2 separate regions of the Homo sapiens genome follow, and region 2 is linked to region 1. Evidence: fine-mapped expression QTL. A gene starts in region 1. The other region holds a variant in brackets. All regions are shown on one strand. Distances are from middle to middle. Region 1 holds the start of LRRC69 (leucine rich repeat containing 69). Region 2 overlaps LRRC69 (leucine rich repeat containing 69).

The links. PIP is the estimated chance that this variant, and not a neighbour inherited with it, causes the effect.
Region 2: its variant is fine-mapped to the expression of LRRC69 in whole blood (TOPMed, PIP 0.92).

What each region holds. Positions count from the first base shown.
Region 1 is chr8:91,098,249-91,106,469 of GRCh38, forward strand. LRRC69 (leucine rich repeat containing 69) reads left to right here and starts at 4,371. Exons shown (of 8, transcript NM_001129890.2): 1 at 4,371-4,596. The coding sequence starts at 4,414.
Region 2 is chr8:91,213,139-91,221,359 of GRCh38, forward strand. It overlaps LRRC69 (leucine rich repeat containing 69), which reads left to right. Exons shown (of 8, transcript NM_001129890.2): 8 at 5,752-6,119. The coding sequence ends at 5,862. It also overlaps a transcript of SLC26A7 not described here. Among named protein-coding and RNA genes, the nearest start is that of MIR4661, 12 kb to the left of the region's middle. The variant G/A (reference allele first, on the strand shown) is at 4,311.

The DNA.
Region 1 (8,221 bases):
GATGGAATCAAGAGCCCAAACGGGAACCAAAAGCTAATCCCAGGCAGTACATGTGGGCTGGGTGCAGTGGCTCACTCCTGTAATCCCAGCACTTTGGGAGGCTGAGGCGGGTGGATCACCTGAGGTCAGGAGTTCAAGACCAGCCTGGCCAACATGGCGAAAGCTTGTCTCTACTAAAAATACAAAAATTAGCCAGGCATGGCGGCACGTTTCTGTAATCTCAGCTACTCGGGAGGCTGAGGCAGGAGAATTGCTTGAACCAGGAGGCGGAGGTTGCAGTGAGCGGAGATTGTGCCACTGCCCTCCAGTCTGGGTGAAAGAGCGAGACTCCATCTCAAAAACAACAAACAAGAAACAAAAATAATGACAACCTTGTGCCTCATTTGATTTCAGAATTGCTATGAACCGGTGGCTACTTTGTTCCTCTGATTTTTCCCTTTTTTTTTTTTTTTTTTTTGAATGGGACTAACTATTGCCTGCCCTTTGTTTTACCTATGTTGTATTCTAGGTATGTGTGGACAGATAACTTGTCTCTTTAGTTGATAGGTCTTCAGGTCAGGATGAACTGCACTCAAGCTGAACTCAAGGAACTGCCTCAGAGGAGCTTCATCTACCTTTGTACCTAACTTTGATGATAAGATCTTTGAACCTGAGGTTCTAAATAGATGAAACTTTTGGGGAAAGGGGCTTTCCAGGAAGAGTGCCTCTGTTTTGCATATGGGAGGAATGTAAACAGCTCATGGCTACAGGGTGGATTGTGGTGGGTTTTAAAACATGTCCACAAATTTTTGGTCACTTGCCTTCAAGAGGCAGAGTCTAATTTGTCTTCCTTTGAATATGAGCTCGTTTCTGTCACTTGGTTCTAATGAATAAAATGTGGTAGAGGTGATTCTGTATGACTTCTGAAGCAAGGTCATGAAAGTAATACAGCTTCCACTCCACTTTCTCTCTTGGGATGCTCAACCTTCAAACCAAGCCACCATGTTGGGAGGGAGTCCAAGCTACATTGGAGAGGCTACATGTAGAGGCTGACCACCCTGAGGCCCTAGCCAACAAGAAGTATCTACCACCAGATGTGGATTAGTGAACCTTTAGATGGTTTCTGCTGCAGACTTTGAGCTGCTATAGCTGTCACTAAGAGAACTATAGGCAAGCCCTGCCCAGATTAAGATTTGTCAATAAAGGCCAGGTGTGGTGGCTCACACCTGTAATCCCAGCACTTTGAGAGGCCGAGGCAGGCGGATCACGAGGTCAGGAGATCAAGACCATCCTGGCTAGCACAGTGAAACCCTGTCTCCTAAAAATACAAAAAATTAGCTGGGTGTGGTGGTGGGTGCCTGTAGTCCCAGCTACTTGGGAGGCTGAGGCAGGAGAATGGCATGAACCTGGGAGGCAGAGTTTGCAGTGAGCTGAGATCACACCACTGCACTCCAGCCTGGGCGACAGAGTGAGACTCTGTCTCAAAAAAAAAAAAAAGATTTGTCAATAAAATAAATGTTTTAGGCCATTAAGATGTGTGGTGGTTTGTTTCCCAGTGATAGATAACTGGAATAGACAGTATGAATAGGATTGATTATATATTGGAAGTAAGGGAGAAGAAAGACTCAAGAATGTTAACCAGGTTTTCTAGGTTCAGCAGATTAACAGAAAGCAGTGTCAGATTGTATTGGTTTGTTTACCTACTTAAAGCAGTAACAAATTTCCAGGGTTTGGACAGTGTCATCTGGGATGCTAGCCACCCGATATTTACTTAAGAGGTGGTGATTGTCATGGATTTTTTTTTTTTAAACAAAGCCTTGTGATCAGTTTGTTTTGATAGTAACAGCTTTATTATTCTTAGGAAACAAATAATATCAAAGTAAAGAAGACGAAGCATAGGTTTGGAAGAGGGAAGGCAAACAGCAGTGATTAAGAAGCTGAAAAATTATCTTTCTAGCAACTGAAAGTCACTATTAGCATCTCTTGATTTACTGTTATGATATTGATATTCATTATAATCCCTTTAAAAATTTAATGATCCTTTTTTAGAATTCTGGCACTTGATTTTACTCTCTTACTGGAAGAGGTCTTGTCTCTAATAGCATTCTCTCAGTGAGGCCTTTCCTGGTCATCCTATTTAAAATTGTAAACTTCTCATTTCCCACACTCCCTATTTCTCTTTTCTGCTTAGATTTTCCCCCTTGGCATCAAATCACCATCTAACATAATAGATTTACTTATCTGATTGCTTTTCTTCCCCTACTAGAATGGAATTTCCTTGAGAACAGAAATTTTTATCTTTTTCATTCACTCCTGCAACAGTGTTGACTATGTAGTAGGTGGTCAGTAAATATTTGTTGAATAAATAAATAAAGTGATTTCTGAATGCCAAAGGAAGGATTGATTTCTGTTCAGATCACTTTCAGTGCAGAATGTATTTTATAATGTTCAAGTTTTTGGAAACCCACATCTAAGTGTGTCACATACATGTGTAATCCTAATGCCTCTAAGACTCATCCTATCTGGGTGCTAGTGGGCTTGTGATAATAATCAAATGTTACTGGCCACAACTCCCCTCCCTCTCCTTTTTGTCACCGTTTAAATCTTTTATTTGGAAATTTTTAAACATATGCAAAAATAACAAGACTAATATAATGAATGCTGATATGGTTTGGATTTGTGTTCCCTCCAAAATCTCATGTTCAATTATAATCCCCAGTGTTGGAGACTGGGCCTGGTGGGAGGTGATTAGATCCTGGGGGTGGAGTTCTCATGAATGCATTAGCATCCTCTCAGTGCTGTTTTCCTGCTAGTGAGTGAGTGAGTTATCCTGAGATCTAGTTGTTTATGTGTGTAGCACCTCCTTCCTATCTTCCTCCAGCTCTGGCCATGTGAAGTGCTGGCTCTCCCTTTGCCTTCCACCATTATTGTAGGCTTCCTTAGGGCTCCCCAGAAGCTGAGCAGATGCCAGCACCATGCTTCCTGTATAGCCTGCAGAACTGTGAGCCAATTAACCCTCTTTTCTTTATAAATTACCTAGTCTCAGGTATTTATAGCAGTGCGAGAATGGACAAATACAAACCCCTATGTGTCTATTACTCAGCATTAATAATTATCAACATTTTGTCAATCTTGTTTGATCAGTTTCTTCCACCCACTTTCCCCCCTAGATTATTTTTAAAAAAACTCAAGATATCATTTTATTTCACTTGAAAATTTCAGTATGCATTTCTGAATGTTAAGCACATTTAAAATAAATACTACCACCATACCATTTTCACATGTAACAGAATTAATTTCTCTCATCTAATAGCCGATGAACAAATTTCCCTGAGATGTTTGTATTCAACTGAGGATTCAAATACAGTCCAGACATTGCATTTAGCTGTTATTTGCCCTAAGTTTCACTTACATCGTAACAGTTTTCCCTCCTTTTTATTAATGTCTTTCATTTGTTGGTGAAACCTTGTGACATTGGACCAGGGACCAGTCCTGTAGAATCTTCCATGTTATAGATTTGACTGTTTCCCTATAATGAACTTAACTTATTCTCTAGTTCTGTTTTTTTGTAAATGGTAGTTAGATCTTGAAGCCATGATTAGATTCAGATTTAATTTTTGGACAGGAACATTTCATAGGTGGTGCTGCTGTGTACTTTTTAATTCATTACTTCATAAGGCTTATAATGTGATTGTCTCAATTTTATTGATGCTAAAATGATTAGTGGGTTATTAACCTGATCACTTGATTATAAAGTTCCTCATCAACCTTTCATCTAATACTTTCAGTCTCCAATTATGATTTTTGCATAGCTCCATTATTTTATTAGAATTTGCAAAAATTGTGATTATTCTAGTTATTTTGTCTTTCTCATTTATTAGTTTCAATTCTTGTGAATAAGAACTTTATTAACTATTAAGTTATATTTAAGTGCAGTTTGTACTGGAAAAGCAGAATAAATGCTTATATTTTTTCCTTTATCAATTTTCAGACTGAGTTGGTGCGCTAGTAATTCCCAGGGTGAGTAATGTTTCTTTTTAAAAAATGCCATTATGAACTCAGATTTTAATGTGTTTTGATATGTTTCAGTCTATTCTAGATTATTTCTTTCTGATCCTTAATATTTTCCATCTTAGACTAGTGGGAGCTCCTAGAAGTTCACTTCTGTGTCCTCATTAATCTCTGATAGCTTTAATATCGCAGGCATAAGCTATTTTAGGCTTACATTATACATTTCCTGCCCCAAACCTGGACCATCTACTTTCCTTTCGTATCTTTCACATAGGAAAATAATCTAATGCTTCCCCCCTTCAACATGGTGGATCTCAGAATGTTCTTGTTTCTATGACACACCAATTCTGTAATTAGAGGTTCTAAAGCTGTATAATAAAGAACTCTAATGGTTACCTTGTTTTCTACTTCTTTTCCAAGATCATGACTGAGAGATTGTTAATAAAAGCATTGAGTGGTGGTAAAAATACGAAGATCATTACTTTGAATGGGAAGAAGATGACAAAGATGCCCTCAGCATTAGGAAAACTGCCTGGCCTGAAGACTCTAGTCCTTCAGAATAACCTAATCCCCAAAGTGTGTCCAGAGTTATGCAACTTGACCCAGGTGAGGAACAGTGTTTTGCTGTTGTGGTTTGGTATTGAAGATGGAAAACAGGAAGAGAGAAAAAAGGGGTAAGAGACAGAACAATAACACTTCGATCTATGGAGACTTAGGTATCTGGAGACTTAATGTGGAGTGTTGCTGGAGAGGCATCAGAAGGCTTTCTCCCTTAGGGAATTCCATGTGGTAGGGAGAGATGTTTCAATTTATTCATGTGCTCTTTGGCCCACATCTGGAGTCAGGGGACTAGGTCTCTGCCACACTCATCTTTTTAGAGGCTGTCATCTGGAAAGGGGTTGGAAACCTGGATCTGGTCGTCTATCTTGGGGGCTTACATCTGGAAGTAGTTTTGAGGATCCAGGAGATGCTGTTCACCCTGGGGACTGTCCTGAAGCTTTTGCATTTAGAATGAAGAGACATTTAGGATGCAGCAAGGGAGTTCCTTTTCAATTTCCTAGGGCAGGCTGAAACTTTGAAATGGAGTGTTGGCAGGGAATAGGAAGGAGGGGACATTTATTTCTCCTGAAATAGTCTTTAAAGGAAGTTTAATATTTTAAATAAAAAATATTCTTTTTTAAAGAGGAATAGTTGACATGAATGAATCCCATATGCTTGTGTTAAACCTTTCTGCCTAACAATGTGAAACTCTAGCTGCCAAAAATCTTGAGGTTGAGAGAAGGCAAGGGATATTAACTTTGTAATTTTCTTTTTGTTCACTGCTGAATTGTCATCAGCACAGGAAGAACCTAGAAGCAGCTAAGGCGTTATAGCTCATTAATTTTGAATTTACAGTTCCAAAAAATAAATCTGTATTTTCTTACTTTCACCCTACCTCATTTCCTTTTACGTTTAAGAAATTGAGTTTGTAATCTGTAGTTGTATCTTTATAAGAAATAGGGTAACTTTTACAAAGTCCCCCTTCATTAGTAATTGCAGAAGGTATACTTGTAGTTACAAGACAACAAGGACTTGGAATTTTTTAATAGGAAAGAGGAGTTTCTTTGCAAAAGAATTTGGGACTTGACTGAGTCATGAACCTATTCTCTCCCTCTATTTGAATTTATTTCCATTAAAGTAGTACTAACCATTGGTTACCGAGAATTAAATATTACAAAAAGCTTATAGCAAGAAGCTATCTTCTATCCCACTTCCCCTCATCCTCAATCCCGATCTCCATATATAACCACTTTTAACTCATCTATTTTATTGATTTGTCTATTTTTGGCATCATTTTTCTTCATCTTCTAGATACAGTTATATTAATGTATCTATTGTGTATTGATCCACATCTGGAATCAGGGGATTAGGTCTACAGGTATCTTTTACATGTAATGTTACTACACCTTTATTTCTTCCTTCATCAACTGCAGTCTCTTTTGACTCCCCACTTCGTAAGATGACAGTGTCAGCCTTTGTAATCCACCTTCAGCTGTCCTTTCCTCTCCCCCCTCACAAACTCTGAAGTTTTTACTTTTATAACACTTACAGCTTTTATATCCTATTCAGTTATAACCATAATTAAATATTTGTTTTGTGTCTTGGGTAACTCTAAACTTCTAAAAATATATATTACTAATAAATAAATATTCACATGGAGTCAATTAATCTATGATTATATTTTCTTTCTTATATGCCATTTTTGTTCCCTTGGAGTTTCTAATAACCTTTCCTTTGTTCTTGTGCCTTAGTTTTATGGTAGCCTCATTTTATTTCAAACTGTATAATTTTTTTCTGTCAAATGTACTTTTCCTTGAGAGACTTCCCTCTAAGACCCTCCATCCTCTGCCCCACTCTATGTTGACTGCTATCTAGGTTTGCTAGATACTGTCAGCCAAGGACATTCCCTTTGTTGCTCTCTTAAATTGGACCCACTGTTTCCTGTATCCTGTATTTTCCTTTCTTGGCTTGCTCTCTTAGTTTTTCAGGAGTCTCGAGAAATCATCCTAGTCTGGGTATGTGGTAGTTAAATTGTTTGATCCCTTGCATATCTGAAAATTTCTGTATTCTTGTCTCACACTTGGTTAATAGTTGTTTAGTAAAAAGTTACACATTCCAAGATATATTTCCATAGGAAAAAGCCCCAAGAGTCTGATTATCATTACATTGTCTTCTTCTTGTGGCTCCCTTTGTTACTTGCCCTCTCATTCTTCTATTTAGGGGTAACCTACGTGTTGACTTCTGTTTGTTCACTCTTAGTTCCTTCACCAGGGAGCTGTCTCAGCCCAGTGCTTACTTTTAAAGAAGAAATTACACCACTAAGAATTCAACTGATTTGCAACTAGGCTGCTTATAGTCTATTCTGTCTTTAAAGTACTTTAAAAGTCAGATTCAGGCCAATGGTATTATGTTTAGCTGTTCATGAACTAGTAGTTTTTCTTATATAGGGTCTTGGAGAAATTGTGGAATTTTGGAAAAAAAAACACAATTTTCCCTATGTAATGGGAGTTCTAGAAGCATGCTAGATAAAATGTGCTAGAAACCCTCAAAGAATGGTTGTAGATTATCATAGAGTTCAGATATACAGCTCCATCCGTCTCACAGTTGGTAGTAAAGGGCAGATGGCCCGGTGCAGTGGCTCACACCTGTAATCCCAGCAGTATGGGAGGCCAAGGTGGGCAGATTGATTGGGCTCAGTAGTTTGAAACTGGCCTGGGCAACATAGTGAGACCTCATCTCTACAAAAAAATAAAAATTAGCCAGGCACAGTGGCACGTGCCTCTGGTCCCAGAGGATTGCCTGAGCCCGGAATGTGGGAGGTTGCAGTGAGCTGAGATTGCACCACTGCACTCCAGCCTGGGCTGCAGAGTGATTCTGTCTCAAAAAAAAAAAAAAAAAAGGAAAGGCAGATGAAGGTTTCAAAGAAAGAGACAGCTTAGAGAATTGAAAAGGAGAGTTTAGAAGTGCTGGCACAACTTAACTGGTTCAGCAGTTACCAGCTATATACAAGGCACTTAGTTTCTTTGGGCCTCAATTTCTGCCTTCATTTATTTAATCCACAAATAAGCAATGAGGACCATCTGTGTCTCAGGCACTCAGAACTGGTGATTCAGTGATGAGCAAAACAGGTGGAAATCTCTGCCCTCATAGAGTTTATGTTTTAGTCAGGAATGATGTAAGAAACAAATAAGCAAAATAGGGCGTGAGGCGGTGATTAGTGTTAAGGGGAAAAATAAAGCAGAGAGAAGGGGCAGGGTGTATTGTGACATTCAGCTGACCTGACTGATGCCACAGAGTGTCTCTTGTGGGCTTTATAACTTGGTGATGTGTATGTCAAAATTCAGTGATTATAATTCTTATTCTAACAGTTTTCTCTAAAATTCCCGTGTACTTTTAAAGTTAATTTGAACTCTTTCTTATGTGGCTATAGTCATACCGTTTATCAGTAATGTTTAAAGCTACCCATCTACCTATGACTTTTGTTTCATTTTGTTTTATGTCTACAGTGTTTATCTTTTGAAGTAGCCTTTTATCATCATATGAAGTCCAGTTTGCCCCAATATACTGATTTTTTGGTCATATTTCCCACAGAATGCAAAGTATTAACATAGTCTTGATTTGTTTTTAAGTTCCTAAAACAAAAACACTACTTTTAAATTTCTGTACTCATAAAATGCTAATAGAATAACAA
Region 2 (8,221 bases), 110 kb after region 1:
TTATGCAGGGGGTGCTGTGGGAGAGCAGGACCACTGTGTGGGGAAGGGAATGCTGCTTAGCTGGGTGGCTGGCTGGAACATGATGGGATTTTCTTTGTCGTTTCTGTTCTTATCACAGTCCAAATTGCCCTAAGGGTGGAATGACCATATAATGTGTCGTCTAAGCCAAGATGCTTTTGAGAGTAAAAGTGGATTTTATTAATAGCTGTAAAAACAACAGGAAACCAGGACTGTCCTTGGCAAATCCCAATGTATGGTTACCCTTGCTAAATGGAGTAGTTAACTTCAGAGCAGTACTCATGTCACTTATCACTGTGGCATGGCAGTGATAAATTATATTTAGTCATTCCATAAATTTTTGAGGGCCTGCTTTAAGCAGGGAACTGAATGCTAAGTACAATGCGAATAAGTAGGAGACCTAGTCTGTTCCAAATGGTTTAAAATTTGAGTTTAAATGCTAAAGAGGTAAAAGATATTAGCAATAAAATCTAGATATTAAATGAGTGATAGAGACCAATTGCTTTAGGATTCAAAGTGGAAGATGAGATCACTGTAGGTTGTCTGGTTTGGGAAGTGCCTAGAAACACAGGACTTGTATATAGCCTTGAAATAGGTGGAATTCAGATACATGGAGAAGAAAGTAAACAGAATGTTTTAGGAGAAGAGAATGGTAAGGAGGAGAATAAATCATGTTCATAGGGCAGTGAATCAGTTAGGTTGGTTTGTGGATAGGAGTGGCAGGAGGAGACATTATTAAAAAGTTGAGGTCACATGCCATGAACCTGTCAAAGGATTAGATTAAGTAAGGGGTTTGAACTTGATCTTGTTTGGAAATGAAACCCTACTGAACATGTGGGGGAAAACCGGTGAGATATATATGTGTTCGTGTGTGTGTGTTTTAGAAAGAGTCACTTGGCAATAGTGTGCTGGCTTAGTTGAAGTTTGAAGAGAAGAGAAGCTGAAGATAAGAGGCTAGTTAGAGTGGTTTCCTACTGTGGGTGTAAGGTGTGGTGGTGGAAAAGCAAGGAAAGTATCATAAGGAAGGAAGGACAATATAAATTGTTGATTGATTGAGCATGGGAAACCTCTGAGGGGTGTGAAGGAGAAAGAGTCCAGAAGGGAGCTGGTTTGGGAGGCAAGACCCCAAGTTGTATCTTAGACATGTTGAGTTTCAAGTGATGCCTGGATAATTCAAGTGAATACGTTTAACCCTCAGTTGGAGACAGACTGGCATGGAAAAGAAATATACTTCTTCAGTATGTTATTTGAAAACATGTGCACTTTCCAACAACTGTTCATTCTTCTAAACCATTCTGTAGTTGCTATTAAGCTATAATAGAAACCCTCATTAATGAAAGAGCCTGGGAATCATACAATGACTAACACTAAGCTATAATTTAGTGAACTTAGATTCTAATCTTGTCTCTACCTTGAAATATGAGGCCTAAGGTAAGTCATCTACCTTACTATATCAGGACTAATTTCCTCATTTGGACAATGAAGGGATTAGACCAGTCTCTTCTAGCATGAAAATGCATTGATTCCATAAGCAGGGAGGGCTGCCATTGTTATGCTTTTCAAGTCCTGCTAATTTGGAACATGATAACAGTATTAGTTTTCCATTGAAGCTGTTAACAAATTTCCCAAAGCTTGGTGACTTGACAGAAATTTTTTTTTTTTTTTTACAGTCAAGTAGATCAGAAATTCAACATGGGTCTCACTGGGCAAAAATCAAGATTTTGCAGGCTGGGTTTCCATCTGGAGGCTCCTGGGGGGAACCATTTTCTGGCCCTTGACAGCTTCTAGAGGCTCCCCATATCCATTGGCTCATGGTTCCTTTCTTCCATCTTCAAAGTCAGTATTGGCTGATCTAGGCCTTCTCATATCACCTCACTTGGACCTTCTCTTTTATCTCCTTCTTCCACTTTAACAACTCTTGTGATTACATGGCGCCCACCTAGGTAGTCCAGGGTAACTTCCTTATCTCAAGGTCCTTAATTTAACCCAACTTGCAATGTCCCTTTTGCTATGTGAGGTGACATGCATATTCATGAATTTCAGGAATTAGGATGTGGACATCTTTGGGGGGACATTATTTTGCCTACTGAGATACATTTTCCTGAGAAAACAGGAAACCATCTTATGCTCTTTTTCTATTCCTTGTGCTTCATATAATATTGAAATCTTATCCAAACTTTTTACTGTGCCATATAAATATATATTGCAATAATTTTTAATTTCTCAAAGTTTAAAATATGGCAGTGATGGTTACCAATTATGTTGAATGATTTTTAAAAATTTCTCAATTCTACCATTCAACAAACATAAAACTTAGCAAAGAGTAATATTTGAATTTAAAGTGGAAAACTACTTTTTAAAAAACACGTAGAGAATATAATCATGTGTTTGTTTGCTTTAGAAAATAATGCAAATATTAATGGTGAAAAAGTAAACTGTATTATAGCATTTTACTTTTTAAAGCTTTTTGCTAAAATGATATTTTTTCAAAATAAAAGCATATATAATCACAGACCAACTCCTTTTCCTATTCACTGACCTTGGCTTGACAGAAAGGATATTTCATTGAGTGCTTTGATCTCTATCTATAAACAATGACAAAAGCAGTATTTGTCTTTGACAAAATCATGAGGTTTTGTTAATTGAGGTTTGTGAAGAGAGGTCCTCTATAACAGGGAGTGTCTTATTCCTTTGTAACATGCTCATTTCAAATGGACATATGTCGTACCAGTAGAAACAGTTGCAATAATGCCACAAATAGAAATACAAATTTAAAAGGGCAGCAAGTGTTAAGGTGGTACGAGAATTTCATGTTATGCAAACATTACTAGAGATGATGAATCTAGATGGAAAAGTGTAATACCAAGAAATTATGCTGAGTTGTTTTTCTAAGTTAAATTTCTAGAAAACAATTCATAGCCCTGAAAAATATTGTATAAGAAATAGAAATTATTAAGTTGGAGAATAATCACCTTCAAAGTTTCATGTTCACTATAAAACTAACAACGGGCATTTAATAGACTTCTAAAAATCTCACCAAAATATTCATTTTATTATAATTAACTAAACAATGTTTCCCCCAAGAAGGGGAAAGAGGGACACAGACACTTTGCATTCCTGCTTGCAATAAGAGCCAACCTAAACTCTGCCCATGCGATGTCCTAATGACACAAGGGAAATGGCTAAAACCACACTGGAAATAGAAAATGCCTTTAATACTTTCTATTATAAACTTTTCACCTCATGAAGAAACTGGACAAAGCAAATCAGATGTCGAACTTGTTTCCTTAGTTTATATTTGTTTCTTTCTCTAACTTCCTCCTCTTGGTTCTTGGCTCTATTAATTGTTCAGGTTTCTTAAAGAGGAGCTGAGGAAAATGTATGTAGCATGTTTTATTTTCAATAGTTCTTTAATTCTAGCTGAGATATGTTACAGAAGTAGGCAGGATTAACTGGTTGGGTGAGACGGTTGTCTAGTATATGGAAAAGGAAAAGACCATATTTAGCCTGTCTTTTGCCATTTGTTCTCCAACCACAATTTCATCACTTAATCATTATAATCTAGTTAGGGAATCAATATTATATCTTATATAGTAGATTTAAAATATTATATGTGTCTGTCATTCAAAAATACTTATGAAATCTTTTTATTTCTGGACTAATGTATTGTTGATATCCCATGATTTAACATTTTATGGTCTATTTATAGTTTATACTGTATTGTTTCCCCAATACAATGTGCACATTCTTGAATTTATGCTCTCATAGTTCACCCTCCCCGAAATGTCCTTTTGGTTTCTCCCCAGGCAGACACATTCTAGTCAACCTTCAAAACCCAGCTCACCTTTTTCTTATATTGTGAAATCTTGCTTAATATGCAGCCTATGGTGTCTCCTGTCTCTGCACTCATATAGAACCTATCCTTGGGCTGAGCCATATGTTTCTATTTGTGTGTGTGTGTATGATTATTGTCTTTCCAACTAGATGCTAAGATTCTTAGAGGCAGGGATTGTTTGCTGTATATCTTTGTAGCCTGACACTTTGCCTAATGTGCAGATTTTAGGTAACTTATAATTTGTCAGGACTCGTGGTTGCAAATTAAAGAAACCCAACTCATATACCAACTTAAGCAATGAAGAAGGTCCAGGGATGAATCTGGCTGAAGATTTTGTCATGTCTAAATTAGGTTTCCAAATTTATCATTAGGAATCTGTCCTTTATTTATTATCTCTGCATTCCTTTGTTTTGGCTTTGTTTTCCAGTGGCTGCTGCCTAAATTGTGTCTTTTGGGA[G/A]TAAAGGGAGAGCTTCCTTCTCCCAATAGATGCAGAGAATGTCCTGGGGCTGATGTTCATTGGCTTCCTTGAACTGTCTTGCCTTATGTGCTTACCCCAGACTAATCACCATTGTCAGAGGGAAGCAATTGAGTCATTGCCTGGGCCGCAGTTACATGGTCATATATTGAGCCAGGGAGTGAGAAAAGTTGCTCTCTCACTCCCCCAGCATATGCACTGAGATTGGAGGAGTGGTAGTTGCCCAAAGGAAAAACAGGGCTTTTGTGCCAGCACAATGGGAAATGGATCCCAGACAGGAAAAACCAAGACGTCCACTGAGGAGTTCAGAACCTGTTTGCTGATTGATGAATTAATATCTTTGTAGGAAAAAAGTCAGGTTTGTAGATATTCTATACCATTTTTCACCTTCATCCAAAATATTTTACAGTTAGGATAGTGCTGTGTATCCTCTAAGTGCTTCACAGCCACTGTTGGAGGTCTGTGTGAAGGGGATGTGACTTATGACTTTGGCTCCCTGCTGATACATCACCAGGGTTAGAAGGCTGTTACTCTCTCAAGGGTGGATCAATAACTGTGCTTACCTGTCTGAACCTTTCAATAGGATCTCAGAGTTCTTTTGTGGAAGAGTGAACAGAACAGCAATCAAATCTCTCATTGTGGGTTGTGATGGTGTTGGCCAAATGGTTTCATGGTAAAACTAAGCAGCGTTATCAACCAATTAAATATTTCCCAGTTACCAGTTGTGGAAATCTTTTGGATTCTCTCACTGAGAGCTGTGTTGATTTCAGGACATGATTATAAAACATAGAAATGGTAAGCTTTTGAGGTTACCATTATTTCAAACATAAATGGTCAATATATGTGCACTAAATTGGCTAACAGGATTTTGACTGCTTATTTTGTACAAATTATTTTGAAGTACAAAAATTTAATTCATGTATTAGGCAACTTGCCTGAGACCCAGCCAGTGAAGATCTTAATGAATAGTACAGACAGTGAACAAAGAATTTTAGGAAGATTAATTTCCATGGCAACTGCATGCTGGGCAGGTAAAACCAAGATACCCATTAAGAAGTTCAGTACGTATTTGCTGATTGATCAATTTAATACCCCTGAAGGACAAAAGTCAGGTTCATGTAGATTCTGTATCATTTTTTCACCTTCATTTCAAACACTTTATGGTTAGACTACATAATGATATGTTTGAATAAAAGCACACATAATCTTTCATCATTTGGATTTTGTTTAGCATTTGAGTATGATTTTCTTAGCTAGTTAAGTTTGTGTTTTTATGTGTGAGAAAAGAGCAAATCAAGCATAAATAGAATAGTGCGTCTTTAGAAGTCAATGTTCTGAAACCTCTGAGAAAGCAAATATTTATTTTAATGAAAAATACTTATTGAACACTGCCTAAATTTTATTTTTAATCTTTACTTTTTAGGACTGGAAGATAAGCAAGAATCTGAAGCTGGTGCCTCTCCAAGTATTAATTTGTTCTTACAAATGTTTTACTCAACGTGACCCTAACCTCTTTGGAATTGCTCAGGTGTAGAACAGGTGAGGTGCTCATTCATAGCCTCACTCCACTTGCCCTGTCAGCTCTGCATACACAGATTATGCCCTACTTAAGATACCATGCCTGTTCTCTTTGTCAACACATTAAATAAAGGAAGAAAAATAATTCCATTATAACGTTCCCAATCTAAGCACTACAATCTGCCTTCAGCTTGCTTAGATTCTAGGTGTGCTTTTTTTGGCTTAAAAAAGTACAAAAAAAAATTGAAAAATAAAGATTTGTGTGGCAAGTGAGTTATTTTTTCCTGCTGTTTTATGACTACCACTCCCCTTTTTCTAGGTGAGTATTAAGAGACTTTGACGGGGAAAAGTATTTATTTTATGAATGTTTTGCAATTGAAAAGGAATCACTGTTTTGTGCTAGATAGTCGTATTATATTTGTGTGATTTCATTTGAGGCACTAATATCTACTGACCTTCACAGAAAAAATGAGTAGAAGCCTGGAAACTCAGGTTTGATAACCCCTAATATCACTTTGTGACTGTTTTTAATTTTTTTTTCTCGTTTTAAAAAAACTTTTTACACGACAAACTGCCGAGGCAGTAGTTCAGAAATGAGAATTGTGCTCATTTTCTTTAAGGACAACAGAAAAGTAGAAAAATAAGTTATGAAAATATGTGGTGTGCTTTGCACAGACCAGTGGTTCTTGGAATTGTGTTCTACTCAGCACCATCCACATCAGTTGAGAACGTGTTAGAAATACAAATTATCTGGCTCCACTCCAGAAGCACTGAATTAGAAACTTTGGGAGTGTGGCCCAGAAATCGCTATTTTAACAAACCCTCCACGTGATCTCTTTGCATGCTCTAGTTTGAGAACCACAGGATAGACTTAGATAAAGCTGCTGCATGTTCAGAAAAGTGAGAAATGTCATTATAATTTCATATTTAAACCCCACCAGAAATCTATTTCTTCTTGTCACTACGTATGGTCCTTCTGGTGGAAAGCTGAGTGGAGTCTCTCATCTTCCAGGTAGTTATTATCAGGTTACCTTCCTAGCAAGGCCTTTTATGAGTTTAATTCAGGTTCTTTATGCATCAGAGTTGCCTCTGGCATAACTGAGAAATGAAATCAATGGAGCACAGCAAAGAGATCCTCAAACCAGAGAGCAAAGTTCAGGCCCCACTGAGACAGAGATGGGGCCTCAAGGTAACTTTCTAAAGGCTCCATTAACCAAGAATGCATTTTAAACAAAAATAAAAAACCAAGTACAAATGAGCTCATCAAAAATGCGTTACAGGGGTAAAGTATGTGTGCTTATTTTGAGGGAAAATTGCTCAGTAGATTGATTTTGATTAGGGAAATAATTTCTTATAACCTAAGCTGTTGAAAAAGTGTTTTTGTTTTTTTTCTTTATTTCTTCTAAAAAAAAAAAACTGGGATACATGTGCAGACCATGCAGGTTTGTTACATAGGTATACGGGTGCCATGGTGGTTTGCCGCCCCTATTGATCCATCCTATAAGTCCCCTCCCCTCATCCCCTATCCCCCAGCAGGTTCTGGCATGTAATGTTCCCCTTTCTGTGTCCATGTGTTCTCAACGTTCAACTCCCACTTATGAGTGAGAACATGTGGTGTTTGGTTTTCTGTTCCCGTGCTGGTTTGCTGAGGATGATGGCTTCTAGCTTTACACAAGTGCCTGCAAAGGACATGATCTCATTCATTTTTTATGGCTGCATAGTATTCCATGGTGTATATGTACCATATTTTCTTTATCCATTCTATCATTGATGGGCATTTTGGTTGGTTCCATGTCTTTGCTATTGTAAATAGTGCTACAATAAACATACGTGTGCATGTGTCTTTATAGTAGAATGATTTATAATCCTTTGGGTATATACCCAGTAATGGGATTGCTGGGTCAAATGGTATTTCTGGTTCTAGATCTTTGAGGAATAGCCACACTGTCTTCCAGAATGGTTGAACTAATTTACACTCCCAGCAACAGTGGAACGCTCACCAACAGTGTAAAAGCATTCCTATTTCTCCACAGCCTCACCAGCATCTATTGTTCCCTGACTTTTTAATAATCACCATTCTAAGTGGAGTGAGATTATCTCATTGTGGTTTTGATTTGCATTTCTCTGATGATCAGTGATGTTGAGCTTTTCTTCATATGTTTGTTGGCCACATAAATGTCTTCTTTTGAGAAGCATCTGTTCATATCCTTTGCCCACTTTTTGATGGGGTTGTTGGTCTTTTTCTTGTAAATTTGTTTAAGTTCCTTGTAAATTCTGGATATTAGACCTTTGTCAGATGGGTCGATTGCAAAATTTTGGTCCCATTCTGTTGGTTGCCTGTTCACTCTGATAATAATTTCTTTTGCTGTGCTTCT